Homo sapiens: one gene and its partners. The protein of the gene in region 2 purifies or fractionates together with the protein of the main gene of each other region. This does not show direct contact. Each region holds a gene or a part of one and is shown on either strand. Other genes may lie near its edges. The genes, in order: AP1G2, UPK3B, DDX19B and SLC25A15.

Evidence for each region.
Region 1: the proteins of UPK3B (region 2) and AP1G2 purify together in Homo sapiens (co-immunoprecipitation; 2 studies listed by BioGRID and IntAct, with this or other methods). This does not show direct contact.
Region 3: the proteins of UPK3B (region 2) and DDX19B purify together in Homo sapiens (affinity purification with mass spectrometry; one large-scale study listed by BioGRID and IntAct). This does not show direct contact.
Region 4: the proteins of UPK3B (region 2) and SLC25A15 purify together in Homo sapiens (affinity purification with mass spectrometry; one large-scale study listed by BioGRID and IntAct). This does not show direct contact.

Annotation. Positions count from the first base shown.
Region 1 is NC_000014.9:23,564,221-23,572,053, forward strand, and holds the start of AP1G2 (AP-1 complex subunit gamma-like 2), read right to left. Parts: upstream 3,572-7,833; 5' UTR 3,519-3,571; exon of another isoform or gene 3,332-3,518; coding exon of another isoform or gene 3,231-3,331; exon of another isoform or gene 3,100-3,230; 5' UTR 3,096-3,099; coding exon of another isoform or gene 3,095-3,095; coding exon 2,891-3,094; exon of another isoform or gene 2,467-2,890; coding exon 2,342-2,466; coding exon of another isoform or gene 2,200-2,341; coding exon 2,058-2,199; exon of another isoform or gene 1,941-2,057; coding exon 1,844-1,940; coding exon of another isoform or gene 1,673-1,843; coding exon 1,596-1,672; exon of another isoform or gene 1,482-1,595; coding exon 1,386-1,481; exon of another isoform or gene 1,236-1,385; intron 980-1,235; coding exon 899-979; intron 621-898; exon of another isoform or gene 507-620; intron 441-506; coding exon 342-440; intron 169-341; coding exon 113-168; intron 2-112; coding exon of another isoform or gene 1-1. Other genes in the region: JPH4 (junctophilin-4), read right to left, coding at 5,414-5,497, 6,708-7,240, 7,582-7,700.
Region 2 is NC_000007.14:76,511,325-76,518,328, forward strand, and holds the end of UPK3B (uroplakin-3b isoform d precursor), read left to right. Parts: intron 1-332; coding exon 333-558; intron 559-1,759; coding exon 1,760-1,839; intron 1,840-2,622; coding exon 2,623-2,752; intron 2,753-3,720; coding exon 3,721-3,880; 3' UTR 3,881-5,198; downstream 5,199-7,004. UniProt on the Homo sapiens protein: Component of the asymmetric unit membrane (AUM); a highly specialized biomembrane elaborated by terminally differentiated urothelial cells. May play an important role in AUM-cytoskeleton interaction in terminally differentiated urothelial cells.
Region 3 is NC_000016.10:70,324,834-70,331,866, reverse strand, and holds part of DDX19B (ATP-dependent RNA helicase DDX19B), read right to left. Parts: intron 6,294-7,033; coding exon 6,179-6,293; intron 2,576-6,178; coding exon 2,398-2,575; intron 2,037-2,397; coding exon 1,799-2,036; intron 146-1,798; coding exon 1-145. UniProt on the Homo sapiens protein: ATP-dependent RNA helicase involved in mRNA export from the nucleus.
Region 4 is NC_000013.11:40,794,058-40,801,090, reverse strand, and holds part of SLC25A15 (mitochondrial ornithine transporter 1), read right to left. Parts: intron 4,107-7,033; exon of another isoform or gene 2,035-4,106; coding exon 1,776-2,034; exon of another isoform or gene 367-1,775; intron 1-366.

The DNA of each region.
Region 1 (7,833 bases), on a different chromosome or scaffold from region 2:
CCTGGGTATAGGGATAAGATAAGAGAGAAATGGATCAGGAGGCTCTGGAGGAAGGAGGGCAGAGGGCCAGGGGATCAGTGGCACAGCCTAGGTAGACAGTTGGGACTATTACCTAATGTTCCTGTCACTGTTGAGTAGGAAGCGACCAAGAATGTTGACAGCTAGAACCTATGAGAGGCAGAAGTTGGGGTCAGTCGGAAAGGAGCAACCTGCTCAGCCATTGAGGACTGGGAACACATTGGCGCAAGATGATGGGGCTAGGAGGGAGAAACCAGCAAGCAGGACCTGTGTGGGTGAGGTGGTGGGCGGGGCCGTAGTGGGAGAGGCATAAGGGGTGATACCCGTAGGCCAGCTGCAGAGCGGATATCCATGATGGTGAGTACTGTCTCAAACAGGACCGCATTTCCGGCATTTCGGCTGGTGTCCGTGTTAGTGGCCACCTGAGTGGATGAGAGAGGAGATGTATCTGCTCAAGGCCCTCCTCAGGTCTCCTTTTTTTGATACAGGGTCTCACTCTGTCGCCCAAAGCTCACTGCAGCCTTGACCTCCCAGGCTCTGATGATCCTCCTGCCTCAGCCTCCTGAGTGGCTGGGACTACAGGCACATGCCAACAAGCCCAGGTAATCCTCAGGATTCTTGAAGGACTCCAACATGTTATCTGTCCATCCTTCAACCATCCAACAAAGTTCCCTGAGGCTCTACTATGTGCCAGGGCCAGCCTGGGCACTGGGGCAATAGCACTAAGACAGACTGTGTCCCTTCTTCATGGAGTTCACTGTCTAGAGGAGATGGAGAGGCAATTACACGGCCACTGCACAGTGACGAGTCATGTGAGGGGCACCCAGGGCTGATGGGGTCTCCAAGCAACACAGCTAACCAGTGCCCTCCCAGGCCCCACCTGGGCCAGCAAGTCATTCATGGTCTCACTGCTCTCCTCGTGGTTCCGGCCCAGGATCCGAAGCAGACGAAGTATCTGGACCTGAGGTTGGGTTGAAAATGGAAAGTTGGAGGGGTTCATAGGATAAGGAGTCGTGGGGCTGAGGAGAAAACTCCAACATGTGAGGGTCTGGCTCGCTCCCTAGAGCCTTCCCCCACCTCCTCACCTCCACAGGTCCCTTGGTCCTAGGAGGGGAACAGAGGTGTGTGAGGCCAGGGGAGTTTAGGACAGGCTTAAAAAAAAAATTGTTAACAAACTGTATTTTCCTGACTTTTAGGCATTCCCTCTCCCCTCACAGGTCCTGGGATGACCCGAGCAATCCTGTGCCTGCTACTCTGCTGCCCAGGACACTGAGAGAACCAGTGTTCTCTGGGAGGAAACCACTGGTCATGGTCTTACTGCTATGCCCTCTCTGATCCAGGGATACAGCAGTGAAAGGTCACCCCACCTGCAGGAAGGGGTCGCTGACTCCAGATATGCTGTGTTCTGTGGAGTATCCCATTGTCACCAGAGTCCGGAGGATGTGTACCAGCTGGGGTACCACCTGGAGGGAGGGCACAACTTTGGGCATTCGTTCTAATCCTCTCCAGCTAAAGCCCCATTCCTTCCCCACTGACCCTGTCTTCCAGGCCCAGGGCCTGCCCCTTCACCAGCCCACCTTTCGGAAGTGCCTGAGGGCTGCAGGGCTTCGTTCGCAGAGCTCCGTGATCAGCGTGATGGTGCCCAGCAGGATGCCTGGGGTCAGCGTCGGGGAAGTGAATGGTGGGGGCCAGGGGCAAGAGAGTCTATTGCGTGTGTGCCTGTGTGTGTGCACTACCCTTCTCCTGTGAGCTGGGGTTCCCATCCGATTTTCAATTCTTCTGTCCATAGACCTGAAGCAAAGGATGGGGGGCCCCACAGCCTTACCATGGTGACGCTCATGAAGCAGTTGGGCACAGGGTGGGAGGAAGACACTGGAGAGTTCAGGGACCTTCCGGATCATGTGCACTGCAGTCAGAATAGCCTGCAGAGGTCAGGGGCCTCAGACAGGGGTCAGAGGAGATGGACCCCTGCATCTACTACTATATAGCACGCAGCAGGCAGTGTGCAGGAGCACGTGCCAGGAGTCCCGCCATCTCACCTTCTTGCGCACGTAGGGACTGGGCTGCAGGAGCAGTTTCTCCACCTCTGGGGCCAGGTCTCGGCACATCTCAGCAGAGCCCATGGTGCTCAAAGTGCACAAGGCCAGGCCTTGTACTGGCTGAATCCCCTGGCTCAGGTCACTGCAGGGTTTGGGAGGACGGTCAGTCAAACCTCTGAGAAAATCAGTCCTTTTCAATACCCACAACAGGCAGTCCCCTGGGATTTCCAAGGTCCCTACTCTCCCATCTCCCTGATTCCAAGTGATTGCCAGAACCCTCTCACTTCTTGATGCTGTTGGTAATGAGCAGGTGGGCATCGTGCCTCTCATCCAATAGAAGCATGGCCCCCAGGTAGCCCACCCTCTTGTCTGTGAATCTGGAGGAGGCGATCAGTTTCAGGCACTCCATCTATAGTGAAGGGGGCAGACCAGGAAGAGGCAGGGGTGAAACCATAGACACTCACATCCCTGTTCCATCTTCCTCTTTAAAACCAGATTAACCTGTGGGGCATCATATCTCATCACTCTCCCTTCAACAAGAGGAGAAGCTTAGGAAATTCAGGCGTTAGTGGGTAGGAGGAACTAGGAGTTGAGGAGGATGGGAGCGGAGAGGAGGAGATGCCTGCCCTAAAGGAGGCTGGCCAGAGAATGAAGGGTTCAGGCCAGCTGATGACCAGTAGGGGTAGCAATGGGGAAAGAGGTTTGCAGTGCAGGCTGTGAAGACTCTGAAATTGTAGAATTTAAAAAACCAGGGCATAAACAGGTGAGAGAGTCTGGGACTCTGCCCCACTAGCCTTCATCAAGCTCAGGAGGGAGGTATTCCTGGCCAGTACCTGTCCAAAGTGGGCGGGGTAGCCCAACATGTGGACGTAGAGCAGTTTGGCCAGCTGCCGGTGCCTGTGCACTGGGTCCCCGTCGCGGAAGGAGGCCCGGATGTGGGCACACTCCTTTTGGATCACCTCCCGCTCCTGGGCCTGAGTCTTGGCCCCGCGAATCTCTTCGATGAGGTCCTGAAGCTTCAGCGAAGGCACCACCATCCTGACTGGCAGAGTCCGGGAGTGGAGAAACACTCTCTGGTCGGGCGTGCCTGGGCTTTCGGCCCAGGCCCGTCCTGTGTCAAGACCCTAAGAGCCCGGGTCCCACAGGTACCCTAAAATTGCGCCCGCATTTTACCTTTCCCGAAGTGGGTCTCCAAATTCCGCGCCCACCCCACCGCCCGAGAAGCCCACTACGCATGCGTCCGCACCCCACCGGCGCCCCTTCCTATTGAGCATGCGCGGGAGCCCCACCTATTTCTCTCTACCGTTTCCTCCCCCTACCTGGTACCCCATCCCTAGCTCAGCCATTGCTTTTTTTTCCACGACCCTCCGCTGTTTCTTCCGCGAGCTTCCTCCCCCGATTTCCATCTCAGGCAGCGGCAGCGGCAGCGACAGCCTGCCTACCCCAGGACTCCAGCCTCACCTGGCTTCTGCCTCAACTCCGCTCCTCTGCCCCCCAGCGCTTCCTGGTACGGGGCCGAGCAGGGGTTGGTGCTCCGTGCGGTCCTTCCCTCTCCCCGCCTCCACCACGGGACCCCGCCCTCCTGGGCCGACTGCAGAGCCTTCCTGAATCCTCTGACCTCGGGCCTCAGGCTTTAGCGGAGAGACAGCATGATAGGCCTGGAGTTCTTCAAGAGGCCTCCTCGCACATCCTTACCACCCGGAGAGCCTCAGTTTGGATTTGAAGCCATCGCACCCCAAAGGAGATGACAATCCCCCCCCTTTTTTGAACTTTTTTATTAATATATTTTTTTTGTTAAATTTCTTTGTATTTTTTTCCTGCAAGACTTGGTGTTGGCGGCACTGTTGTAGTTTAACTTCAATCCCAAATTCCATGAAATAGAAATCAGAAGTAAAGGTTGAGAGGGGAGGAAGGAGGGAGGCAAGCCAAGGAATAAACAAGAGTTTGACTAGAAAAAAAGAAGAGGGTATGTGTGGTGGGCATTCCTGGGCAAGGCCATTCCTTGAGGGAGGGGGTTGGCAGGCAGCTTGCCTCTGCCTCATGCAGGGGAGGGAGGAAAGATCCCCTGGGGACCCTGCAGTCCCCTCTTCCTAGGGCTTCCTGCTCCCAGGGGAAAAACTAATACCAGAGAGGGATCAGCCACAACCTCAAACAGGGCTCTCCACCCACCTGTCACCCGGGTTTGACTCCCACCTCTGCCCTGCCTGGGAAGCATGTGAGATCAGCTATCTTTGATCCCCTCCTTCTGTTGTTTTCCCATTTCACAAGATTCTGATGTAAAGGGGGAAGGGATATAACCCATTTTGGGACTACTAAACTTGTCACAGCTTCTGCTTCCATGTGAGCTCCTGTTATCTTGTCTGGTCCTATCCCCCAGAAGTGCCTCCTCCCACCACAACTCCCAGAGTTGGGATGTGGGGGCCTTGCTCAAGTGCCTCTAACCCTCTGCAGTAGAAATGTCTTCTTCAGGCCCCTTAGGAATTTAATCAAAGGCCACAAGTGAGTCCAGACCAACCAAATAAACTATTATGGGGGAGACAGAAGGGTGGGAGAAGTCAGTGGCAAAGTCTGGGCAGGGTGGACTTGACTGCATTGGATATTCTCTGTTCCTTTACACGTTGCTCTTGGCATGGCATGCCACCAGAGGGGGCTGGAGGAGGGGCTGGCCGATGAGGAGAAAAAGAGGGAAATGCTGGGGAGTTACTCTACTTTTCACTTCCCTTCTCTCCTTCAGGGAAGGATGGAATTGGGCAGTAACCCAGCTCAGTGCTTGGAGGTAAGATAATAGCCTCCAAGATTAGAGGTGGAGGATGCACCTCCTGCAGCTTTTTCACTAGGCCTCAGAGGGACAGCAGGCCCCTTAGGCTAGGGAGCCACAGCAGCTCAGCCAGTGCCTTGCCCGACATTCAATCACTCCTTCTTCATTTTCTTCCTCCTCTCCATTCAGCTTCCAGGAGTCTCCTTAGGACACCAAACCCCCACCCGCAGCGAAGTTGAGGTCTAAAGAAAAGGTGGGAGGGCGTGGAGCAATGGTCTGACTTAGATTTGTGTGTCTCAGAGAAGACAGCAACTCTGAGAGAGAAAAGCCCTTCATATGTAAACAATCTAGAGAAAGAAGGGGTTGGGATGGGGAAGGGAGTGAGGAATACAGAGACAGATCCAGAAGAAATGAGATAATCTGAAAGAAGACAGGGAAAGAAAAAGCGAGAGAAAAAAACAAAGGAGCACAGAAAAGAAAGGAAGAAGAGAAAGAAAGATAGGAGAAAACACAGCCAGGAAGAGGAGAAGAGAAAAAAGGCAGGTCAAAGGGGTGAAGAGGCACGCAACCAAAGCCAGAACCAGGCCAGGAAGTAGCCTCAGGTGAGGAGCTGGGAGAACAGGAATGCCAGGCTGAGGTCCAGGAGGGCCACGGCTCCCACCACCAGGGGGTTGGCAGCTCCCTAGAGAGACAGAGGGGGAAGCAGACTCAGTCCCCGAGGACAGGGCCCACCTTCCTGCCCTGACTGAGGTGGCAGAGCTGAAGGGTCTCAGGCACCTCCCTGCACAGCCTGGAGCAGGGGGATCGCCAACATTTGTTTTGGATTGCAAAACCCCCTCTTCTCCCAGGCAGGGCCCCACCTTTCCTCTGACACCTTCAATGCAGGGACAGCCCTTCCACCTCCTCCCTCTAGTCCCCTCCCATCAGCATATCATGTGTCCCAGGCAGGAGGTGCCTGGCCTTAGTAGCAGACATTGGCAGCAGCAGCCAGTACTGCAGTAAGGCAGAGGGATGAAGGGGTGAGGATGTGGTTGCTAGGAAACAGAAGGCCTAGAGCCCAATCAGAGTAGAGGGTTCTGGGCAAACTCCGCCTCTCCCGGTTTTCTGCCTTCTTCTCTATTTCAACTTCTTCCCGGGAGAGGGAGGGAGAGTCAGGGTAGGGAGGGAACAATCTTTTCCTTTTTTATTTCTGGGCACCAAAGAGAGAAAGTGCGGAGGTGGGGGTGGGGGTGGAGTAGGAAACTGAGAGCTGGAAATGATATGGAAGGAGAACGGGGGAAAAATGTTCTGGCTCTCCCATTAATTATTAGTTTACAACCCTGGGCAAGTTACTTTTTTTTTTTTTTTTTTTTTTGAGACAGAGTCTCGCTCTGTCACCCAGGCTAGAGTGCAGTGGCGCGATCTCAGCTCACTGCAGGCTCCGCCTCCCGGGTTCACGCCATTCTCCTGCCTCAGCCTCCCAAGTAGCTGGGACTACAGGCGCCCGCCACCACGCCCGGCTAAATTTTTTTTGTATTTTTAGTAGAGACGGGGTTTCACTGTATTAGCCAGGATGGTCTCGATCTCCTGACCTCGTGATCCGCCCACTTCGGCCTCCCAAAGTGTTGGGATTACAGGCGTGAGCCACCGCGCCCGGCCTGGGCAAGTTACTTTAAGTGCTCTGGGCCTCAGTTCCCCCATCTGTCAAATGAGGGAGTTGGGCTTGCAGGTGTGTAAGGTTCCTTCCAGCTCGAACGCCCTCTATTTTTTTGAGGTGGGATGTGGTCCAAGACTGGCCAGGCAGAGGAAGCCGAGTGAGATAAAAAGCCCCCCCGGTGATCAGACAGTTCTGGAAAGGGTGGGAGGCAAGGCTTTGGGAGAAGAGGGCACACAGCAGGGACAGAGGATCTCACCGGCTGGGCAGGCCTCTCGGTTGCAGCGGGCTCCCCGAGCTCTTCTGTCAGGCACCCAGCATCAGGACCCCTCGAGGACGAGCCCCTCAGGACCAGCATGGCGATGGGCTCAGGCTCCGTGCCTGCTGGGGCCCTCAGCGGGGGCAGGGGCTCTTCATCCTCCCCCTCCTCCTCTCGAAGACTTCCTGAACTGTCGCTGCAGCCTCCGAGGAGTGGGGAACCGTCTCTGGGCCCTGGCCCTTGCATCCCAGCCTCATCCTCAGCCTCATAGCCAGCTAGTTCCTCTGCCTGTGCGCCTGCCCCCCCCCACTCCTCAGGCCAAGCTTTGGGGCTGGAGAAGGGACCCTGGTCCCCTCCAGGAGGCAGTGGGCTCCGGCAGGCAGGGGGTCGCCAGGGTTGGCGGGAGGAGGCAGGACTGCTGGGCAGTTCAGGGGATCCCTCTGAGGGGGTCAGTCCGTTCTCATATACCCCAGGGCTGTCCTCATCCAGGGGCTCCGTGTCGGAACCTTCTGAGTCCTGCCTGGGTCTGCGGCCTGGGTAGGGATAGCTGAGAATCAGAGGGGCCTAACTGGCCTTGGGCTGGAGTGGCTGCAGCTTTATTCCTGACTGGGCACTTCCCAGGACTTTGGAATTCCCAGGCTCATAGCCTCTCACCGCCAGACCCCAAACCCCCCATTATCCTACTGCATACATTCCCAAGTCCCACTCCCCAGACTACCAGGTCTGGCCCCCACCCTGTGTTCCTTGCACCCTCATTCCTTGTTTTTTCCCATCCCCACTTCCCTTGCAGGGCTTCTCATCTGTTTCCCCACACCTGAGCCTCTCTAGCTCCCTAGGGGCCTCACTGCCCTCCCCCCAGCTGTCCATGCCTCACCTGGGGCCTCTAGCATGGGCTGCAGGTCCTGGGCTATCAGTTTGGCCATTCGAGCTGCCTCCACGGCCTTCTCAGCGACACTGCTGGCTGCCACTGCCTTTAGGAGGGCGTCTGCTGCCCTGTCGGGTCCAGAGACAGGGATTTAGCAGAACTTCCCCCACTTCAAGTTAGTCCCTGCTCAGATGCTCCAGCCCCCTAGCCCCTGTCCCCTCTACATCACATCCTCCTCTCCTCTGGAGTCGTCACCCTTCG
Region 2 (7,004 bases):
TCCTTTGGACAGGGAACCGAGGCTGCGACCTGGGAGGATGTGGCCTCCTGTGGGGCAGGGCCGGTGCACTGCAATGGGGCTGGGGCTGGGGCTGGGCAGGTTGGGACTGCCCGCTGCTCCCCACTCCTGGCTCTGGGTGGGGACAAAAGGCCAGAGGGAAGCTCCCCTTCAGGGGTAACAAAGTCGACTGGGTCTGGACTATCTCTGGGGGCCCTGAGGGAGGAGGTGGCATGGGGGGTCAGGGCTGGAGACTGGGCGAACACAGAACCCCCACTCATAAGGACAAAGCTGCTTTCTCCCCTCCCACCTCCATCTGTTCTCTCCTCCTGCAGCCTCCAGGGGCTTCCAGAACCCGGAGACACTGGCTGACATTCCGGCCTCCCCACAGCTGCTGACCGATGGCCACTACATGACGCTGCCCCTGTCTCCGGACCAGCTGCCCTGTGGCGACCCCATGGCGGGCAGCGGAGGCGCCCCCGTGCTGCGGGTGGGCCATGACCACGGCTGCCACCAGCAGCCCTTCTGCAACGCGCCCCTCCCTGGCCCTGGACCCTATCGGTGGGTGGTCCCCACCGGAGCCCTGGGACTGGGGCTGTGCTTGGGGCGGACGCATTGCTGGGACCAGGGATGCTCTCTCTAGCATCTTTCCAGGGAGGGGTCCCCGGCCCCGGTCCTCCCCTTTGCAAGCCCGGGCTCCTTCCACTGTAGAGTCAGCAACAGTGCTCACCCCCGCTGGGGCCGGGCAAGGCCCAGGAGGAGCAGGTGGGCACCTTGGGGAGGCGGGATCTTAGTCAAGGTGGGAGGGGGCAGCTTCCCCAAAGTCTAGGCCCCTGTCCCCCACCACGGGCAGATCTGGCAGGAAACTCGGGGGCCGAGTTCAGACCCAGTCTCGTCGGTATTAGGCAGGGAGCAGGAGAGGTGGCTCCTACCCGCTCTTACAGATGAGGAAACTGAGGCACAGGAGGTCAAGTGGCCTGCCAACATCGGGGTGGAGCCGGGATGGGGAAGCAGGCAGTGTGTCCAGGTCAGGACTGTCCGGACACAGGAGGAGGCGGGGTGACCTCAGGAAGACCAGGCCCAGGGGAAGCCGGGAAGGCAGGGCGTGGTGAGGCTGGAACAGCACCCCGCTCCGCCCAGCCCCCTTCTGCCCTCTCACCCACTCTCCAGGTCCACCCTCTGCCCTCCCCGCTGCCTCACCCTGGCTCAGCCTTCCAGCTCCATGCCCCGCCCCATCCCCCGCAGCCACTCTTTTCAATGCCAACCTGCCAGGTCCTTCCCCGCTTCCCAGGCCTTGCAGAGCTCCCAGCCCTGCAAAGAGACAAACCGAGGCCCTCTGCGGGGCTCCTGGTGCCCTGGGTCCTCAGGCTGCTGGTGATTGAGCCCCCTGCCCCCGGCTACTGCTGCCCCTCTGGGAGGCCTGTGACCCCTGCCCCATGTGCCCTGCTAAGCCACCTTCACCTGCTCTTTTGGCTTGTGACATTTAGGAACCAGGGCCCCTAAACCAGCATCCCCGGCCCAGGTCTGGTGTCTGGAGAGCAATTGCTCGGGGGGATGAGGGGTGGTGGCACAGGCCAAGTGGCTGGAGACATCTCAGGGGATTCTCAGAGCAGGGCCAGGCCATGGGCTGCTGCTCTTGACGGGCACCCCCACTCCACATCCATGGGAGGGCCCCAGAGGAGCTGCCTGGGGCTTGGCCCTGCCCAGGGTGGTCCCAGCCTCTGAAGCTCTCCCCTCCTCCCCCACCACCTCCCATCCCCAGGGTGAAGTTCCTCCTGATGGACACCAGGGGCTCACCCAGGGCTGAGACCAAGTGGTCAGACCCCATCACTCTCCACCAAGGTAGCGCTGGGCAGGAGGGGCGCTGCCCCCAGTGGACTCACGATCTCTCTGGGCCGCCTCTGCTGAGCTGGCCACACCCCTGCTCCCACAGGGCTGGGGGCCTGGAGGCCATGTCCAAGTCGGGCCCAGCCCCCAACAGAACCTCATGCTGGGGGAGTGGGGCACCCAGCCAGCCCCCTCGGCAGGGGCACCATCTCGGCCCATCCGCAAGCGTTTGCCACATTGTGGGCACAGACAGCCTCCCCCCTCCTGTAGGGAGTCAGCCTGTGTCAGCCCCTGCTGGGAGGGAGGAAGAGGGTGTGGAGGAGGTCAGGGTCAGGGTCGGGGCTGGCTGGGGAGGCAGCCAGCTTGAGTTCTGAGCAGACCCCAAGGGGCAAGCGTGAATGTACCAAGCCCAGAAGTTTCGAGTGCCACGGCCCAGGTGTCGGGGGTGGGGGTCTCCTGGGAGACGGCTTCAGAGGTCAGGGGGTGTGGGGTGGAAGTCTTGTCATCTGAAGGCCTTGACTGCTGGGCTCCAGGGAGCAGGGCAGTGGATGAGCACGTGGGTGGGAGCAGCCTAGAAGGTAGGAGCAGGGCGGAGGCTGTGGTCCAGGCTGGCAGAGAACAGATGCTGTGCCGTCCCGAGGAAGAGGGACGGGGGGTGGGATCAGGGGGGCGCCTGGGGATATGAGACAGCCAGACCTTGAAGCTAGGCCAGCGTGGGTGGGGAGGGAGCGAGGGAGGAGATGACAGCCAGCCCTGGGGTCGAGGGGCAGCCCCTCTGAGCAGCTGGTGTGTGTGCAGGGAAGACCCCCGGATCCATCGACACCTGGCCAGGGCGGCGAAGTGGCAGCATGATCGTCATTACCTCCATCCTCTCTTCTCTGGCCGGCCTCCTACTCTTGGCCTTCTTGGCAGCCTCTACCATGCGCTTGTGAGTGGGGACACCCCCTCGGGCCCCTCTCCCACCCAGAACCCCTCTGTTGAATTGGTCCCAGTGTCTGGAAGCCCTCCAGGCATGCCATGGGGTTTATTTTATTTTTGGTAGAGACAGGGACTTGCTATGTTGCCCAGGCTGGTCTGGAACTGCTGGGCTCAAGCGATCCTCCCGTCTCGGCCTCCCAAAGTATTAGGATTACAGGTGTGAGCCACCTTGCCGAGCCCCGTGGTTTCGAGCTGGGCAGCGCCCCTCCCAGGGCCTGTGCAGGGAACTCCCACCCTGAGTATCTCGCACCTCAGGGGTCATTGATGGGGCCAGCAGCCCCTCTGAGGACAGGTTCGGGAGGTCCCGCCTCACTCGGGCCCTGTCTTTTCAGTGTGTCCTCAGCCAAGGCCCTTCTCCTCCCGGGCCTCACCTGCTGTCTGTGGATCCTCTGGTGGTTTAGTAAGCTGACGCCAGGGTAGTCAGGGTGGCCACCTGGAGAGGTGGTCCTCCAATTGGTTCTAGAAGGGAGGAAGGAGGGATCAGAGACTGCAGGTGAGGCCGGGTGCAGTGGCACATGCCTGTAATCCTAGCACTTTGGGAGGCCGAGGTGGGAGGATCACTGGAGGCCAAAAGTTCAAGACCAGCCTGAGCAACATGGTGAAACCCCATCTCCACTAAAAATGCAAAAATTGTCCGGGTGTGGTGGCAGGCACCTGTAATCCCAGCTACTCGGGAGGCTGAGGCAGGAGAATCGTTTGAACCCGGGTGGCGAAGGTTACAGTGAGCTTAGATCACACCACCGCACTCCAGCCTGGGTGACAGAGCCAGACTCCATCTCAAAAAAAAAAAAAAAAAAAGAAAAGAGAGAGAGAGAGACTACACATGAGGGAGCTGGGAGGGAGGAGAGCAGGCCTTGACCCAGCACGTGCCCCATGTGGCAGGGACATATGTCTCTTCCTCCTCCTCTCCCCGCCCAGCTCCAGCCTGTGGTGGCCGGAGGAGGCCCCGGAGCAGCTGCGGATCGGCTCCTTCATGGGCAAGCGCTACATGACCCACCACATCCCACCCAGAGAGGCCGCCACACTGCCGGTGGGCTGCAAGCCTGGCCTGGACCCCCTCCCCAGCCTCAGCCCCTAGCCTGGCCTCTTTGCATGGGGCTGGGGGAGATGGGGCGCTGGGAGTGAGTGCATGGTGCTTTGTCCCAGCTCCTGCACCCACAGGCCCCCTCAGGGCTCCTTGCCTTTCCCCCCCACCAGCACACCCCGTACCCTGCCTGGAATCCCAGCACCAGCCCCCCTGCCTCTCCTCTGCCTTTCTGGTTTCTCTCCCTCTCCAAGCATCTGTAAGTTGCACTCAGGAGGGTTTAGGGGAGGGCCATGGGCAGGCTGGATACCCAGTCCCCACCTCCATCCCCACCTCTGTCTCACCTGACCTCCTGCGAGGGAGGCTGGAGACTGTGTGGACAGGCCGCCCTGACCGCAAGCTTCCAGACCCTGGGAGGAGGCCTGCAGAGGACTGTGCTTTGCCTGATGCAGGGAGCTGGGCCCATCCTGGGGCCTATGAGACCTGAGCCACCCTCCGTCCCCCATCCCACACATCAGTGGCTGGGCGGGGTGAGGATTCAGAGGCATCTCTACTGCCCCTGGGCACAGCACCTTTCTGAGAGTGGGACTCTCCATGGTCATCTGACTACCAATTCTGGCCACCACCTCCAACCCTCTTGTGCATATGGATGGCTCTAGCCCTTATCCACCCCCTCAAGCATTTATTAAGCATCTGCTGTATGCTACATACAGTGTTAGACTTGGGGCTTCAGGCATAGCCGGTCCTGACCTTGGGGAGATGCCTTCTCTAGACCTGAGACGACCACGTGTCCAGATGTGACCTGTTGCTGTCGGGGGTCTATCAGGCCCTTAGACCGTCACCCCAGTAGGCTCTCCAGGACCCAGGAGCCTCCATCACCTGGAAGGACCCTCTGTGCAAAACCTCAAGCGTCCATCTGTGCACAAGGCCGGTGGTTCCCGTCGTCGCCACTCGGGGTCGCCGGTGAGCCGCAGCCAGGCCGCCTCACGGCCAGTGTGCATGCTCGCTGCTATTCGCTGCCCCTTCTGCCTCCGAGGCGGTAGCAGATGCCACGTTGGCGGGGTCGGTGAAGGTCAGGACTCTAGGCCTCCCTCCGCCAAGCCAGAGGGATGAGCAATCACGCCTGAGAGCCCACTGCGTGCCATGCAGTCCGCACAGCCGCAGCGGTTTTCTAGATGGAGAAACTGAGGCTCAGTGACTTGCCCGCTGCACTCTGTCCACGGCCGCTGCACACGCCCCCTTGGGCTGCGCTCCCGGACCTTCTAATGTGACCACGGCTCCCGGCATGCAGGCCCTGCCAGCGGAGGGAGCCCGGTGGTGACCCTTGGTCTGCAGCCCTCTTTGGAGGTGAATAAATGCGGTCTGGAGCCCACCCTGGCCTGAATGGTGCCCCTGCTGGGACAGGAAATTTATGCCGGGAGCCCAGGGCCCTGCTCAGCTTCTGCCCCATGGGGTTACCCTGAGCCTGTCCCTTGATTGCTGTCCCGGCTTGTACTTTGAGGTGCCCCCATCTCCTAGGAAAATCCACACATGTGTTTCAGGGCCAGGTATGTGGTTTAGGTAGTGCTCCCTCCCAAGCAAGCCCTTGAGCCCCTCATCTCTGGAGGCTTCTCCTCCATGCTGCCTGCACCCCCACCAGCCACCAGAACCCCTTCAGGTATAGACAGAAACAGATTCAGTCAAATTCCTTGGTGTCCCAGGTGACGTCTGGCCAGGGGAGCCAGCCCCTTTAAGTTACACTATTGCATGGCTCACACCCGGAATCCTAGCACTTTGAGAGGCTCAGGCAGAAGGATTACTTGACCCCAGGAGTTCCAGACCAGCTGGGGCAACAACATAGTGAGACTCTATCTCTACTAAAAATGAAAAAAAAGATTAGCCAGGGGTGGTGGTGTGCACCTCTAGTCCCAGCTACTCGGGAGGCTGAGGCAGGAGGATCACCTGAGCCCAGGAGTTTAAGGCTGCAGTGAGCCGTGATCGTGCCACCGCACTCCAGCCTGGACAATAGAGTGAGACCCTGTCTTGAACGAACAGGCCAGGCGCAGTGGCTCACACCTGTAATCCCAGGACTTTGGGAGGCTGAGGTGGGCAGATCACTTAAGGTCAGGAGTTAGAGACCAGCCTGGCCAATGTGGCAAAACCCTGTCTCTACCAAAAATACAAAAATTAGCAGGGCATGGTGGTGGGGGCCTGGAATCCCAGCTACTCGGGAGGCTGAAGCAGGAGAATCACTTGAACCCAGAAGGTGGAGGTTGCAGTGAGCCAAGGTCTTGCCACTGCCCTCCAGTTTGGGTGACAGAGCAAGACTCCGTCTCCAAAACAAAACAAAACACACAAACAAACAAAAAAACCCCACCACGGTGGAGCCCAGGTCCCTCTGCCTGGAACTGAGAGAGAGTTAACAGACGGGCTTGGTGTCTCATGCCTGTAATCCCAACTTTGGGAGGCCAGGGCAGGCGGATTACTTGAGGTCAGGGGTTTGAGAGCAGCCTGGCCAACATGGTGAAACCCTGTCTCTGCTAAAAATACAAAAATTAGCCTGGTGTGGTGGTGGGTGCCTGTAATCTCAGCTACTTGGCAGGCTGAGGCAGGAGAATCACTTGAACCTGGGAAACGGAGGTTGCAGTGAGCCGAGATCGTGCCACTGCACTCCAGCTTGGACGACAGAGCGAGACTCCAACTCAAAAAAAAAAAAAAAAAAAAGATAGAGTTAAAAGACCACCTCCCTGTCAGTGACCCTTCAGCAGAGACTGTCTCACGCTGTTCTATCCAGACCCAAGACAGTTGGCTAGGGGCCCGGCCCCGGAGGGGTATGACAGGGAGAAGGAGGGGGCCGTTGGTGTTTGCTGTGTGAAAAGATGAATTAATCCTCCCAGGGTTCAAGGACCAGCTAGGAGCAGGATTGCCATGGCTTTTTTTTTTTTTTTTTAACGTGGAGTCTCACTCTGTTGCCCAGGCTGGAGTGCTGTGGCGTGATCTCTGCTCACCACAACCTCCACTTCCCAGGTTAAAGTGATTCTCGAGCCTTGGTCTCCTGAGTCGCTGGGATCACAGGTGCCTGCCACCACACCCAGCTAATTTTTGTACTTTCAATAGAGATGGGGTTTCGCCATGTTGGCCACAGGCTTTTGCATGTCCTGGGGCCCTTCTATGTTTGTTCTCACTGTCTGAATCCGTG
Region 3 (7,033 bases), on a different chromosome or scaffold from region 2:
TGGTCACCAAAACCTTCTCTTTGCCCTCTCGGAAGCGCTCAATCACTGCAGCCCTCTGTTCCACCATCATCTCCCCACTCAGCAGAGCCACCTGGTGGCCTTCTTTTGAGAGCTCTGCTGCCAGCCAACTAGCTGTTTTGCGAGTCTGTAGTGAAAAGAATTGTTTTTTATGAAGAGACCTGTTAAAAACAAAAGGAAGACAACTGCTAAAAAGTGGCTTGCCACGATTAAAATACATGAAGGCCCTGCTAAATCCAGTTAGGAGGTTAGGCTTAAAATTTCTCAATGAAGCATGGTAGTACACACCTGTAGTCCAAGCTACACACTTGAGCCCAAGTGTTCGAGGCTGGCCTGCACAACATGGCAAGAACCCATCTCAAAAAAAAATTTTTCTTTCAAATAGAATTTTAGTCATATGATTTTTTTCTTTTTAGATAAGTTATGTAACTGCTGTTACTTTTGTATCTAGGAAGAGTGTGGCTTTAGCCAAAGATCTTCATTCCTAAATAGTCTATGTTCTTGCCAGATATGGTGGCTCGTGCCTGTAGTCTTAGGCTTTGGGAGGCTGAGGCTGGAAGATTGCTTGAGGCCAGGAGTTTGAGACCAGCCTGGACAACATAGCAAGACCCCACCTCTACAAAAATAAAAATAAAAATTAGGCTGACATGCATGGGGCACATACCTGTAGCCCTAGTAACAAGAGCCAAGGCTGCAGTGAGCTATGACCATGCCACTGTATTCTGGCCTGAATGATAGAGCAAGACCTTATCTCAAAAACAAACAAACAACATATATATTTTAAAATTTTATTTTAAATTTAAATTTTTTGAGACAGGATCTCATTCTCTTGCCCACTCTGGAGTGCACAGTCACAGCTCACTGCAGTCTCAACCTCCTGGGCTCAATCAATCCTCCCATCTGAGCCTCCCAAGCAGCTGGGACCACAGGCATGCACCACCACGCCTGGCTAATTTTTAAAATTTTTGTAGAGATGGGGTCTTGCTATGTTGTGCAAGCTGGTCTTGAACTCCTGGGCTCAAGAAGATCCCCCCACCTCAGCCTCTCAAAAGGCTGGGATTACAGGCGTGAGCCACTGTGCCCAGCCATATATATATTTTTAATGATGAGGTCTCACTATGTTGCCCATGCTGGTCTGAACTCCTGGGCTCAAGCGATCCTCCAACCTCAGCCTCTTGAGTAGCTGGGACTACAGGTACTTGCCCAGCTTATACTCTTTTTTTGTTGTTGGTTTTTTGTTTGTTTGTTTGTTTTTGTATTGAGACAGAGTTTCGCTCTTGTTACCCAGGCTGGAGTGCAATGGAGCAATCACAGCTCACTGCAACCTCCACCTCCCGGGTTCAAGCGATTCTCCTGCTTCAGCCTCCTGAGTAGCTGGGATTACAGGTGCACACCACCACGCACGGCTAATTTTTTGTATTTTTAGTAGAGATGGGGTTTCACCATGTTGGCCAGGCTGGTCTTGGTCTCCTGACCTCAGGTGATCCACCCGCCTTGGCCTCCCAAAGTGCAGGGATTACAGGCATGAGCCACCGTGCCAGCCGCCCAGCTTATATTCTTAAAAATCTAAAAATTATTTCATTGGCTGTTACTTGGGGTTTTCTCCAAGTAATCACTAAGAAGTGGAATCAAAGTCTCCCTCTTACGACTCACTAAAACCTTAGGAGAACAAACCACTTCGTTTCTTCCCATGGCACCCAGGGGCATCCAGTCCTCCTGAGCCCTGTGGGGAGCTGGCTGAGAGGGAAGGGCCAGGCCTGCCACTGCCACTGCTACTCACATGGCAGAAGATCATGGCTTGAGCAATGGTGATGGCCCCGTAGAGGTTACACAAGGCCTGGAACTTCTCGTCTCTGCTGCTGCACAGGACATAGTACTGCTTGATGGTGTCCAGGGTCTCTTCCTCACGCTTCAGTTTGATAACGTTTGGGTCTGGGACCACTTTCTGGGCAAACTTCCACACAGAGTCTTCAAAGGTGGCGGAGAAAAGCAGCATCTGGCAGTTCCTGGGCAGCATCCTGCAAGGGAAGGCCCTGGTAGGTGGCCCCAGGTGGCCCCGGGAAGCGACAGAAGCACAGCCTTCCCAGCTGGGAGGGTCTAGATGCCCAGGAAGGCTGATGGGAGAGGAGCGTCTTGGGGAGGAGGAGCAGCAGGCCTGGGATGGGGACAGGGGTTGGGGGAGAGTCCCTAGGTCTCCTTTCTCAACCCAGGCTGGGAGGGACTGTGGCCAGCGCTGACACGGAAGTGGCCCGTCAAACAAATGCTGCTGAGAGTACGAGAGCCAAGACCCAGGCAGAAGCCAGAGGAGGCATCTGAAGTGAAGGGAGAAGACACTGCAGATGGGGAATCTGAGGAGTCCCCCACCCTCGAGATCCCTACCTCTGGATGCGGATGCTCTGATCTTGGTGGCCCTGAGTGGCTATCATGACATCAGCCTCATCCAGAACAAACACCTTGATTTTCTTGGGATCAATGAACTTGAGCTTGGAGCACCAGTCCAGCACAGTCCCAGGGGTGCCAATGACAATCTGCTCACTGATCTTCTGGCCTCTTTCCACTGTGGAGACCCCAAGATGTTTTCCATGTGTGGGTATTTCTTTCTTTCTTTTTTTTTTTTTTTTTTTTTGAGACAGAGTCTCACTCTGTTGCCCAGGCTGGAGTGCAATGGCATGATCTCGACTCACTGCAACCTCTGCCGCCCAGGTTCAAGCGATTCTCCTGCCTCAGCCTCCCAAGTATCTAGGATTACAGGCACCTGCCACTGCACCTGGCTAATTTTTTTTTTTTTTGTATTTTTAGTAGAGGTGGGTTTCACTCTCTTGGCCAGGCTGGTCTTGAACTCCTGACCTGGTGATCCACCTGCCTCGGCCTCCCAAAGTGCTGGGATTACAGGCATGAGCCACCGTGCCCGGCCTCCATGGGTATTTCAAAGGCAAAGCCAGCTCTTCTCTCTGAGAAATTCTAAACCTATTATATATTTTAATGCAAATGTTTTGCTGTTTGCATTAATATATTAAGGAAAGGTTAGGATATCACTATAGCATTTAATGGACATAAAAACAGACAAAAATGCTGAAAAGGTAATGGGTACAAAAATACAATTAAAATAAGTAAGATCTAGCATTTGATAGCACAATGTGGTGACTACAGTCAACAATATATTGTACATTTAAAAATAACTAAAAGGGCCGGGCACGGTGGCTCATGCCTGTAATCCCAGCATTTTGGAAGGCTGAGGCAGGCGGATCACCTGAGGTCAGGAGTTCGAGACCAGCCTGGCCAACATGGCGAAACCCCATCTCTACTAAAAATACAAAAATTAGCTGGGTGTGGTGGTGGGCTCATGTAATCTCAGCTATTTGGGAGGCTGGGGCAGGAGAATCGCTTGAACCCAGGAGGCGGAGGTTGCAGTGAGCCGAGATCGCGCCACTGCACTCCAGCCCGGAGACAGACTGAGACTCTGTCTCAAAAAAAAAAAAAAAAAAAAAATTCAGAATTCTCTACCCTTCTAATTCGAATACAAATTGCAAAATTTTAAATGATTATCTCCCAATAAGTTTCACTGTATTATTTACTTTTCAGAACTGGCCTCAAGTTGGCATTAGGACACTGTATGCAGACTTGATTTTCATAAGGTCACATTTGTTTCAGAGATCCATAAAACTCAACCAAACCTCTAACACTTTTTTTTTTTTGAGACAGAATCTCATTCTGTCGCCCAGGCTGGAGTACAGTGGTGCAATCTCGGCTCACTGCAACCTCCCCCTCCCGGGTTCAAGCAATTCTCCTGCCTCAGCCTCCTGAGTAGCTGGGATTACAGGTGTGCACCACCATGCCCAGCTAATATTTTTGTATTTTTAGTAGAGACTGGGTTTCATCATGTTGGTCAGGCTGGTCTCGAACTCCTAACCTTACAATGATCCACCCACCTTAGGCTCCCAAAGTGCTGAGATTACAGGTATGAGCCATCATGTCCGGCCAACAACACTTTTAAAATTACTTAAATAATATTAACTGTAAAACAAACTAGTGTAGAAAAAATTAGTAACAAAAAATAATTAACAGAATAAGCCCCAGAGTCAATAGCCATAAACATTCTGGGTTTTTATTCTGCTAATGAAGATAAATAAATTAGGCAATTAAACAAATTCAGTCCTGGCCTAGTGGCTCACACCTGTAATCCCATCACTTTGAGGGGACGAGGCAGGAGGATTGCTTGAGACTTGGAGTTCTAGACCAGCTTGGGCAACATAGCAAGACACTGTCTTTACAAAAAAAAAAAAAATTTGTTTGTTTTTTTTTGTTTGTTTTGTTTTGAGACAGAGTCTTGCTCTATCGCCCAGGCTGGAGTGCAGTGGCACGATCTTGGCTCACTGCAACCTCCACCTCCCGGGTTCAAGTGATTCTCCTGCCTCAGCCTCCTGAGTAGCTGGGACGACAGGCACATGCCACCACACCTGGCTAATTTTTCTATGTTTAGTAGAGATGGGGTTTCACCATGTTGGCCAGGATGGTCTCTATCTCCTGACCTCGTGATCCACCCACCTCGGCCTGCTAAAGTGCTGGGATTACAGGCATGAGCCACCATGTTTGGCCTACAAAAAAAATTTTTAGAAAATTAGCTGGGTGTGGCCAGGCACGGTGGCTCGTGCCTGGAGTCAGAACTCCAGCCTAGGTGACCTAGCGAAACTGTCTCAAAATAAAAAAAAGAAGGCGGCCAGGCGCAGTGGCTCACGCCTGTAATCCCAGCACTTTGGGAGGCCAAGGCGGGAGGATCACGAGGTCAGCAGATAGAGACCATCCTGGCTAACACAGTGAAACCCCGTCTCTACTAAAAATACAAAAAATTAGCTGGGCGTAGTGGTGGGCGCCTGTAGTCCCAGCTACTCAGGAGGCTGAGGCAGGAGAATGGTGTGAACCCCAGAGGCAGAGCTTGCAGTGAGCCAAGACTGTGCCACTGCTCTCCAGCCTGGGCGACAGGGCGAGACTCTCTCTCAAAAAAAAAAGAAAGAAGTCTGGGCACAGTGGCTCACACCTATAATCTCAGCACTTTGGGAGGCCGAGGCAGATGGATAACCTGAGGTCAAGAGTTTGAGACCAGCCTGGCCAACGTGGTGAAACCCCATCTGTACTAAAAATACAAAATTAGCCAGCCATGGTGGCAGGCACCTGTAATCCCAGCTACTTGGGAGTCTGAGGCAGGAGAATCACTTGAACCCGGAGGGCAGAGGTTGCAGTGAGCCAAGATCATGCCACTGTACTCCAGCCTGAGTGACAGAGCAAGACTCTGTTTCTAAAATAAATAAATAAAAATAAACAAATCTAGAATGTAGAATTTTTGTTTGTTTGTTTTTTGTTTGTTTGCTTGTTTTGAGACGGAGTCTCGCTCTGTCGCCCAGGCTCGAGTGCAGTGGCGCTATTTCAGCTCACTGCTAGCTCTGCCTCCCAGGTTCACACCATTCTCCTGCCTCAGCCTCGCAAGTAGCTGGGACTACAGGTGCCCGCCACCACGCCTGGCTAATTTTTTTGTATTTTTATTAGATACGGGGTTTCACCATGATAGCTAGGATGGTCTCAATCTCCTGATCTCGTGATCTGCTGCCCGCCTCGGCCTCCCAAAGGGCTGGGATTACAGGCGTGAGCCACCGCGCCCGGCCAGAATGTAGAATATTTGAAAAGCAACTAGTCTGGTCTGTGCAAAATGTTAAATATAATAGGGAGAGAAAAAGGTAGGGGTACAATTCTAGATTGAAAGAAACAAGTACAACAACCAAACGCAACGTATAAACGCTAACTTGATCTTGGTCGAAAAACCAAACAGCTATAAAGGAAGACTTTGGGAACAGCTGGGGAGGAATAAAAATGGACTGGTATTAGTTATTCTAGGAAATCTGTTAATTTTCCTGGTTGTGATAAAAGGGTATCCATAGGTATGGCAAAGAATGTCCTCATGAGGTGCATGTCTGCAGTTTACTTTCAAATGGTTTGACAAAAATGTATACATTTATGTAAAGCAAATATGGCAAAATGTTAAGTTTTTGAATCTAGCTGGAGAACATACATGTGTTTATTGTATTATTTCAACTATTGGGTGGGTTTTGAAATATTTCAAAATAAAAAGAATTAGGTTGATGATTTAGGACCAAATTCACATACTCACATTTATTGCCTCGAACAGCATAAGCTAGCTTCAGTTCAGGGTAAAATTTGCCCATTTGTTCAATCACTTTTCCTGTTTGGAGGGCGAGCTCATACGTTGGGGAGAGACATAGACACTGGCAGGAAAAGAATGCAGAGTGCAAATTCAAGACAATAGCTCTTTTGCAAAGGGGAATTACCATTAGTACTTAGCCACTCCTCCAGCTGAAGCTGAAGGAAAGAATATGTACATTAAAATGTACACCATTTGATTCTTTAAGCTACAGAGTCATAAGCTAGAATTCTTAGGGGTCAGAACTCTGGCTGGGTAAAGACACTTGAAAACAGATACTGGCCACTGCAATACAAAAACCCACCCATGAGCAAGGATCTAAAGTTCCAATTGGCATTAGCTTTCTTTTCGTTTACTCAGAAAGCTCTCAGAACTTTCTAATGGATGGCAGTTGCTGATGAAACAGGTTTTCCTGCAAGTAAAGGAGCCAAGCCTGTAAGAAGCATCCCAGAACTGGCACACCATGGAAAAAGGAAACAGGATTTTTATTGCCATTGGAAGATATCCCGTATTATTTGTGCTCAATTTAAGGAGTTTCAGTTTGTGTAAAAAGTAATGCATAGCTTGGCTTTTATTTTATTTTTTTGAGACAGAGTTTCGTTCTTTTTGCCCAGGCTGGAGTGCAATGGTGCGATCTCAGCTCACTGCAACCTCCGCCTCCCGGGTTCAAATGATTCTCTTGCCTCAGTTTCCCAAGTAGCTGGGATTACAGGCACATGCCACCAGGCCCAGCTAATTTTTTATTTTTAGTAGAGACAGGGTTTCACCATGTTGGCCAGGCTGGTCTAGAACTCCTGACCTCAG
Region 4 (7,033 bases), on a different chromosome or scaffold from region 2:
CAGCTAAGTTTTGTATTTTTTGTAGTGACGGGGTTTTGCCATGTTGCTCAGGTTGGTCTCAAACTCCTGGGCTCAAGTAATCTGCCCACCTCAGCCTCTCAAAGTGCTGGGACTACAGGCGTGAGCCACTGTGCCCAGCCTTACGCATCTTTAATGAACTAAATAACACATACACTATATGAAATAAATGTACCCAGAGTGATTCTTCACGAGAGAGACACTGTGACGTAATTTCCCAACCCTTTCTTAAGGACACCCAGCAATTCAATGTTCTGAAAGCAGTGTGGGAAAATGCAGCTGTAAGGTATTAGATTGTTCTCAGCAGAAAAGCAATATGCTCTTACCTGTCCTTCACTTTGTTCACAGGCTAAGGAAGCAAGAAAGTGGAGGGGCGGGCAGAGCCAGATCCAGTGGTTTCACTCATGCAAGACAGAAGTCACTGTCTATCCTGTGGCTGGAGGGGCTACTTTGCTCAGAAGACACAGGTCTTCCCCAGAATCTCACGTGGCTGCTTACTGTTTCCCTGTCTTCTCTCCCCATTTTGTCCTTTGCTAAGGAAACTGAACTGAATTCCAGGTCTTCTCTAATAGAGTGTCTCTCCTTCAACAGGGAACAAAACTACAGTTGCCTGTAGTTTTTGCTTCTGTTCAGTCTCCATCATGGCATGCCATACTCTCCTGGTTTGTGCCCTGCTTGTTTCTTTACTGCCTTCCTGCCTGCCCTTTCTGTGCTGGAGGCTCATCCCATTCATGCTCAGCCCTCCTCGCTGTCTACACTGTCTTCTTGGGCAATCGTATCTAGTCCCAAGCCTTTTTAAAAAACAAGCTCTACCCATCATGGTGGAATTCCTGTCTATAAAAGGGCACACCTTCAGACCTCCAGGCACCTCCAGAGAACAGTGCTGTGCACAAGAAACCGAATTCAGTTGTGTGGGACCTGCAGCTGCAATCAGGTTTCAAACTCCTACTGAAATAACTAAGACTGCCCTTTGCAATCTTGAAGCTTATATAATAATTTTAAGTGGTATAAAATAAATCAACATTCAAAGCAGGGATAGCTAAACATCCCAGTGGTTTCCAAATTCTGTTTAGTCTCTATATAATAAATACCCAAGGCAAGACCAACAAAGAGGCAAAGTCTGATGTTTTGGGAAGATTTGGACAGAGAAAGGTGGGTTCCCTTGCATCTTCGCAGACATTTCCGACCCTTCCTAAAACTCCTCAAGTTCATCTGGCTCAGACAACCTCTTCCAATACTCTGCTTTTTGCTAATGAAAGAAAAGCTAAATCTTGGATCATAAGCAGCATCTACAGTTTCAGTGCAGCATGTCTGCTGACGAGAGGTAGCACTGCCAGCTGCATCTGAACAGCATTCTCCTGGAGAAAACTGAAACAGAAGGGCGGTTCATTCTCAGTGGTGGATGATGAGCAGGTCTCCTCTGTGGTGTGCATATGTGGTTTCTAAGTTTTATATGATGACAATGTATAACTTCATAAATAAAAGGAAAGCAGTTATTTTTAAAAAAGGAAATGTTCTTCCACATAAGGCACCAGTAAAATTGTGACCATACAACAGTAGATTTTTTTTAATTTTTATTTTTTTGTAGAGATGAGGATCTTGCTGTGTTGCCCAGGCTGGTTTTGAACTCTCAGCCTCAAGCCATTTTCCTGCCTTTGCCTCCCAAAGTGCTGGGATTACAGGCATGAGCCACCATGTCTTGCCAGTTTTGTGGGGTTTTTTTAAACAAATAAAAAAAGTGTGTGTCCTTGACTCACCTCAGCTTTGCCTGCTTGTCCAATCCAGCCACTTTCCGCACCACCTGCTGGCAGAAGCCGTAGCACATGAAGAGGACTGAGTTCTCAGCGATGTTGGCGATTAGTGCTGGACTGGTACCCTTGTAGAAGCCACGGAAGCCCACCTGGGAGTAAGTCTTCAGGCAGCAGTCGGTGAGGCCCCGGTACAGGTCAGGGAACGTCTGCATCTTCACTTTCATTGTGTCAAAGGGCTGCCCGGTCAGTACACATGCTGTACCTCCTGCAATCAGGACAGATGACTGCTCTAGTACGAGGCTACAGTTCCATTATCCATGGAAGGAAGGCACAGGCAGCCTACCCCAGAACTTACCCCTGCTTCGGTTCATTTCAACCTCTTTTCCTCCAAAACCTTCCAGCCATGTCCAGTAAACAATTTAGAGCAGGTCCTTGATGTGCCTGGCATCTAAGTCCCACCCTGAAGGAGCTCATGCCAGGCAGGGGAGAGAGACAGACATGTGTTCAACAGCGGCAAACAGTGCAGTGAATATGTAGGAGCCTGGGCAATAGGGTCAGAGGGACTATGGCTTTGCTGTGAGATCCTGGACAAGCCATGTAACTTCTGAGCCTCAGCTCCTCATCCATGCCACCTCACAGGGTTAGCGTGAGGATTAAATAAAAATGGAGGAGACAGGCTTGGCACAGCACCGGCTACGTAATCAGTAAACAGCAGCTACTGTGTGCACAAGAAACGGAAACCACAGAAAGGGAGGGGAGACCTGGGAAGACTTCATCGCTCACTTTGCCTAATGCCCAGTGGGACTGATCAGACCCGGCACCACGGAAAGGAAACAAGGAGTCTGGCTAATTAATCCCCAAAGAGCTAAATATTTCATTCTATAGAAAAACCTCTTTAATTTGAGCTCTACCGATTAATAACGTGTATGTAAATAGAGAATGAACTGAAATTTATTTATGCTTAAATCCTTTATTTATATACTTCTATAAGATTAAATACAGCAGAGTCTACATTGCACAAAATAATTTTTTTTTTTTTTTTGAGATGGTGTCTTGCTCTGTCACCCAGGCTGGAGTGCAGTGGTGCAATCTCAGCTCACTGCAAACTCCACCTCCCAGGTTCAAGGAATTCCTGTGCCTCAGCTTCCCAAGTAGCTGGGATTACAGGCACCCACCACCACGCCTGGCTAATTTTTGTACTTTTCATAGAGATGGGGTTTCACCATGTTGGCCAGGGTGGTCTCTAACTCCTGGCCTCAAATGATCCTCCTGCCTTGGCCTCCCAAAATGCTGGGAGGCATAAGCCACCATGCCCAGCCACGTGAAATCATTTTAGTAAAAATTCTAAACAGAAGAGAAGAATGAACTGTAACCACCCTACAACATCCCCACACCCTGTAGTAGGGTTGGCGTCGTGGGAACTGCCAGTGGTTAGTGTTTACCGTCTCCTTCTGGACCTGAGAGGAGCTCTTAAAGCTTCATCAAAATGCAAAAGAAGGCTTACAGAAAATATTTAAGAAATGCAACTTCCTGAATTTGATGTTATACACAGTTATTCCATCTAAACTCTGGAAAGTGGAGTTGGGGGAAGGGACATTAAGAATAATTCTCAATTATTTATTGGCAAATAAGCCAACAATTCCAGAGTCTGAAAACTGCTTGATCTCTTTTTTAAGCAACAAGCAATATGATCTCTGTGAGCCCATCATTACTGTTCATTTCTTACAGGAGAGGAATGACACACTTCCGCCTTTAATTGCCAAATTATCCCCAATTCTGAATTAGTGGAATATAATTTAATATGATTTTATTATGATTAATCCTGAGTCATTCTCTCCCAGGTAATGCTGGGCTAGGATAAAAAGAAATCTGAATTACATTAAAATAATTTAATTATTCCAAGAGAAAAGGTGACAGAATGTTTTAAGTGGGTGCGTAATTCAGAGAGCCTAGATGCAGATAAGCTGAATAAAGCATTTAATTCAGCACATTCATATTTTAACTTGATCATCTTGAACAGTTCAGGCATCACAGGTTACTAGAATACACATTTGCTGTGTAGCTGGGACAGTTACATTTCCAACAGGGAGAAGGGGGAGGCTAATGAATGTACAAATGCTAGCAACAACTGTCTCCCGTCCTCTGCAAGGGTAAGCTAACTTCCCGTGTAATTTACCACAAATGATATGGTCACGGCGCTCACTGTGCCCTCAAGTGAGAGAAGACTGTTCTGAACACCAGTACCAACCACAGAGACTGACACCTAGTAGGTTCTCAAAGATCGATCAAGTCCATAAAGCCATGAATAAATATTATATTTCTCCACTTGCCTAGAAATCAGACTTCTGATCTTATTCTCCTTAAAAGACAAATAACAACATTCTTTCGGCGATATGGTGGCCAGCCAAGCATCTTATTCCGCAGGAAAGGCACTCAGATTATGTCATACCTAACACTTTACTAAGGGTGGTGGTTTGGATTTTCAGTCCTTGACATAGAGTCAGTAAATCACGAGATACAGAGGAAATCTATCAGGGCAGGGACAGTGTCTCAGGGAAGGGACAGCTCTGAAGAAGGCAGAGAGGTGAGGAGAGAGAAGCAGACTCACACCACAGGACCAGGCCCACCAAGCAGAGGTGAGACCCTCAAACCCCTCTGGAGGCCATCGTAAAGGTTTAACAGGGCAGGGAAGAATATCATTTTCAAGAAACTCCAATCAAAAAAGGTTTGGGGTTGTTTTTAATTTTGGCATTTGAGAAGATAAACTTCAATGATCTGAAATGCCACATTCTCCAACTATGCTAAACAAGGTAAACTGCAACAGTAGTCAAAGTAGTGACTGCATTGTTTTAGAGTTGCTGAATGACTATTAAAGTGGTACCAAGTTTCTCTTTAAGGCTATTTAACTTTTGGGATCCACGCACCCCCATTTCAATAATTACCTAATCACCTAAGTTCTTGAAATCCTCCTTTATCCTAGCTGTTTAGGGATCTAGATGTCTTACAGCCATTGCAGATAGGGAAATGGGAACTTCCCAGCACTTTAGAGTAGATAAGCTGGCTAAAAACCTGTGTGGTGGGGAAAACGTTGTTTAAAGGAAAAGAAGAGACACACACAACACCACATTTAAGCTCCATCCACATCACCTCGGGCTGCAGCTGGCTCTGTGCTTACAGATGGATCGCTTCCGTGGGTGACCTCTGCCACAAAACACAACAGGTCCTCTGCTCCTATCAATGGCTGGCAGAAAATTCCCAAAGCCCAGCAAGTTCCACATCCAGAAAGGCAGGGCCCAAAGGCTCCAAACTAACCCTCCCCTCCAGTGTGCTGCAGATGCATTACGGAGTACTAAAGCAGAGACAGCAACGACACCAGACAAGGGACCCAGGGATCACAGTCCTGCCCTGTCTTCACACCATCTTGCTGTGTAACCTTGAACAAATCTACTGCTCCTCTGTGGGCCTTTTTCTACATATCCAACGAGCATTGGAGCCAACAATGTCTAAAGGTCTCTCTAGCTCCAGCACTCCAAGACTCCAAGATCCTCAAAAGTGGGTTCCATTTGCATTCCATAGGCCTCACAGCAGAACAGAGGTTTCTGTGTCACTGCTAGGCACCTCCTCTGCCCAGCCCCCAACCTATAGACCATGTCTCGCTCCCCCTCCCTATCCTGTCCCCCCAGGAATGGGCTTCGTTGTCCTCAGAAGTTAAGACTACCCACAGCATCTCTACCTCGGTGAGGGGCGTCCCTGTGTCGCCAGCACAGGGGGAAATACCTGTCCAACAGTGATGGGGACAGTGTGTCAGTATACATAAGGGATCAATACATGTTCAAAACATGCCCACCAGCAAATGCCTTACATACCAGGCTCCCAACCATACTGTTGCAATTTCTATCTTTCAAACTAACTTGTAAATTATAAATGTGGTACCCAAATACCTGTATGCACATAAATAGGAAAAGGTAAACTTTTAAATTCTATCACCATAGGTTCTAGATCTTTGACAGATTGACTGAAAGACATAAAATGTCAAAAGCTGAGACTATATGTGGCTAAACACCCTCCTTCTGCAGAAACAGAACTGAGCCCAAGAGCATTCACTCGCTGGTGAGAGGCGGCCTGGGGCAGGCAGATGTTTGCACCATTCTCAGGGTCAGCGTCCTCCCCAGTGTGGCATGGGGGAGGGGAGGGGGAAAGGGGCTTGGGAGGCTGTAGCCTAAAGGCACGCAGTGGGCAAGAGACTACTGGGCAGACCCCCACTGGCCTTCCGTTCCCTGGGCATCTGGGGCTGGGACGCTCCTTGTGGGTTCTGCCCTGGGAGAAGTGCCCTTGCCCAGTGCTCCTCATTAGGCTCGGTGACGGTGACGCGCTCTCTCCAGTCTTCCTCATTAGCATACCCTGGCTGACCTTTGGCTCATGGAAAAACACTTTGCTCTTCTCTGAACAATTTCTTTTTCACAATTGAGCAAATGACTGATGAGGTGACCATATTCATGACCATACTCATCTGCTGGTGGTGGGGGTGGGGGGTGTGCTGGATAAGGACAGCACTGGGCAACACCCCCGCTGGCCTCCCCACTCCAGGGAGCTGCAACTACTATGAGAATCCTGCGGGAGCCCAGGGTAGTCCAGGGTTTTCCTTTGGGCAATCAGTATTCCAGCCACTCCTCCTACTTCTGGACTCTGGAGAACCAAATTACCACCATGCACTTCCCATTCCGCCCTGTTTCCCAGCCTGAGGGTCCTGCTCTTCCTGCATGTTCAAGCTGATCTTTCTAAGGAGTAGCCTGCATGGTGCCAGCACTACCCCTTATCACAGGTAGCACCTCCCTGTGCTGGGGGAGCCTCAGGCTCTTGGGCTCAGGCCCCTAGGCTCAGGTTAGCTGACATTCCCAGCAAATCCTACAACTTTCACGGCTCTAAGACACAGTCCATTATCAGTCTCATTTTCAGAGACATGTCTTTTTTTTTTTTTTTTGAGACAGAGTTTCACTGTTGTTGCCCAGGCTGGAGTGCAATGGCGCGATCTTGGCTCACCACAACCTCCGCCTCCGGGGTTCAAGCGATTCTCCTGCCTCAGCCTCCCAAGTAGCTAAGATTACAGGCATGCACCACCACGCCTGGATAATTTTGTATTTTTAGAAGAGACGGGGTTTCTCCATGTTGGTCAAGCTGGTCTTGAACTCCTCACCTCAGGTGATCTGCCCGCCTTGGCCTCCTAAAGTGCTGGGATTACAGGCGTGAGCCACTGCGCCCAGCCT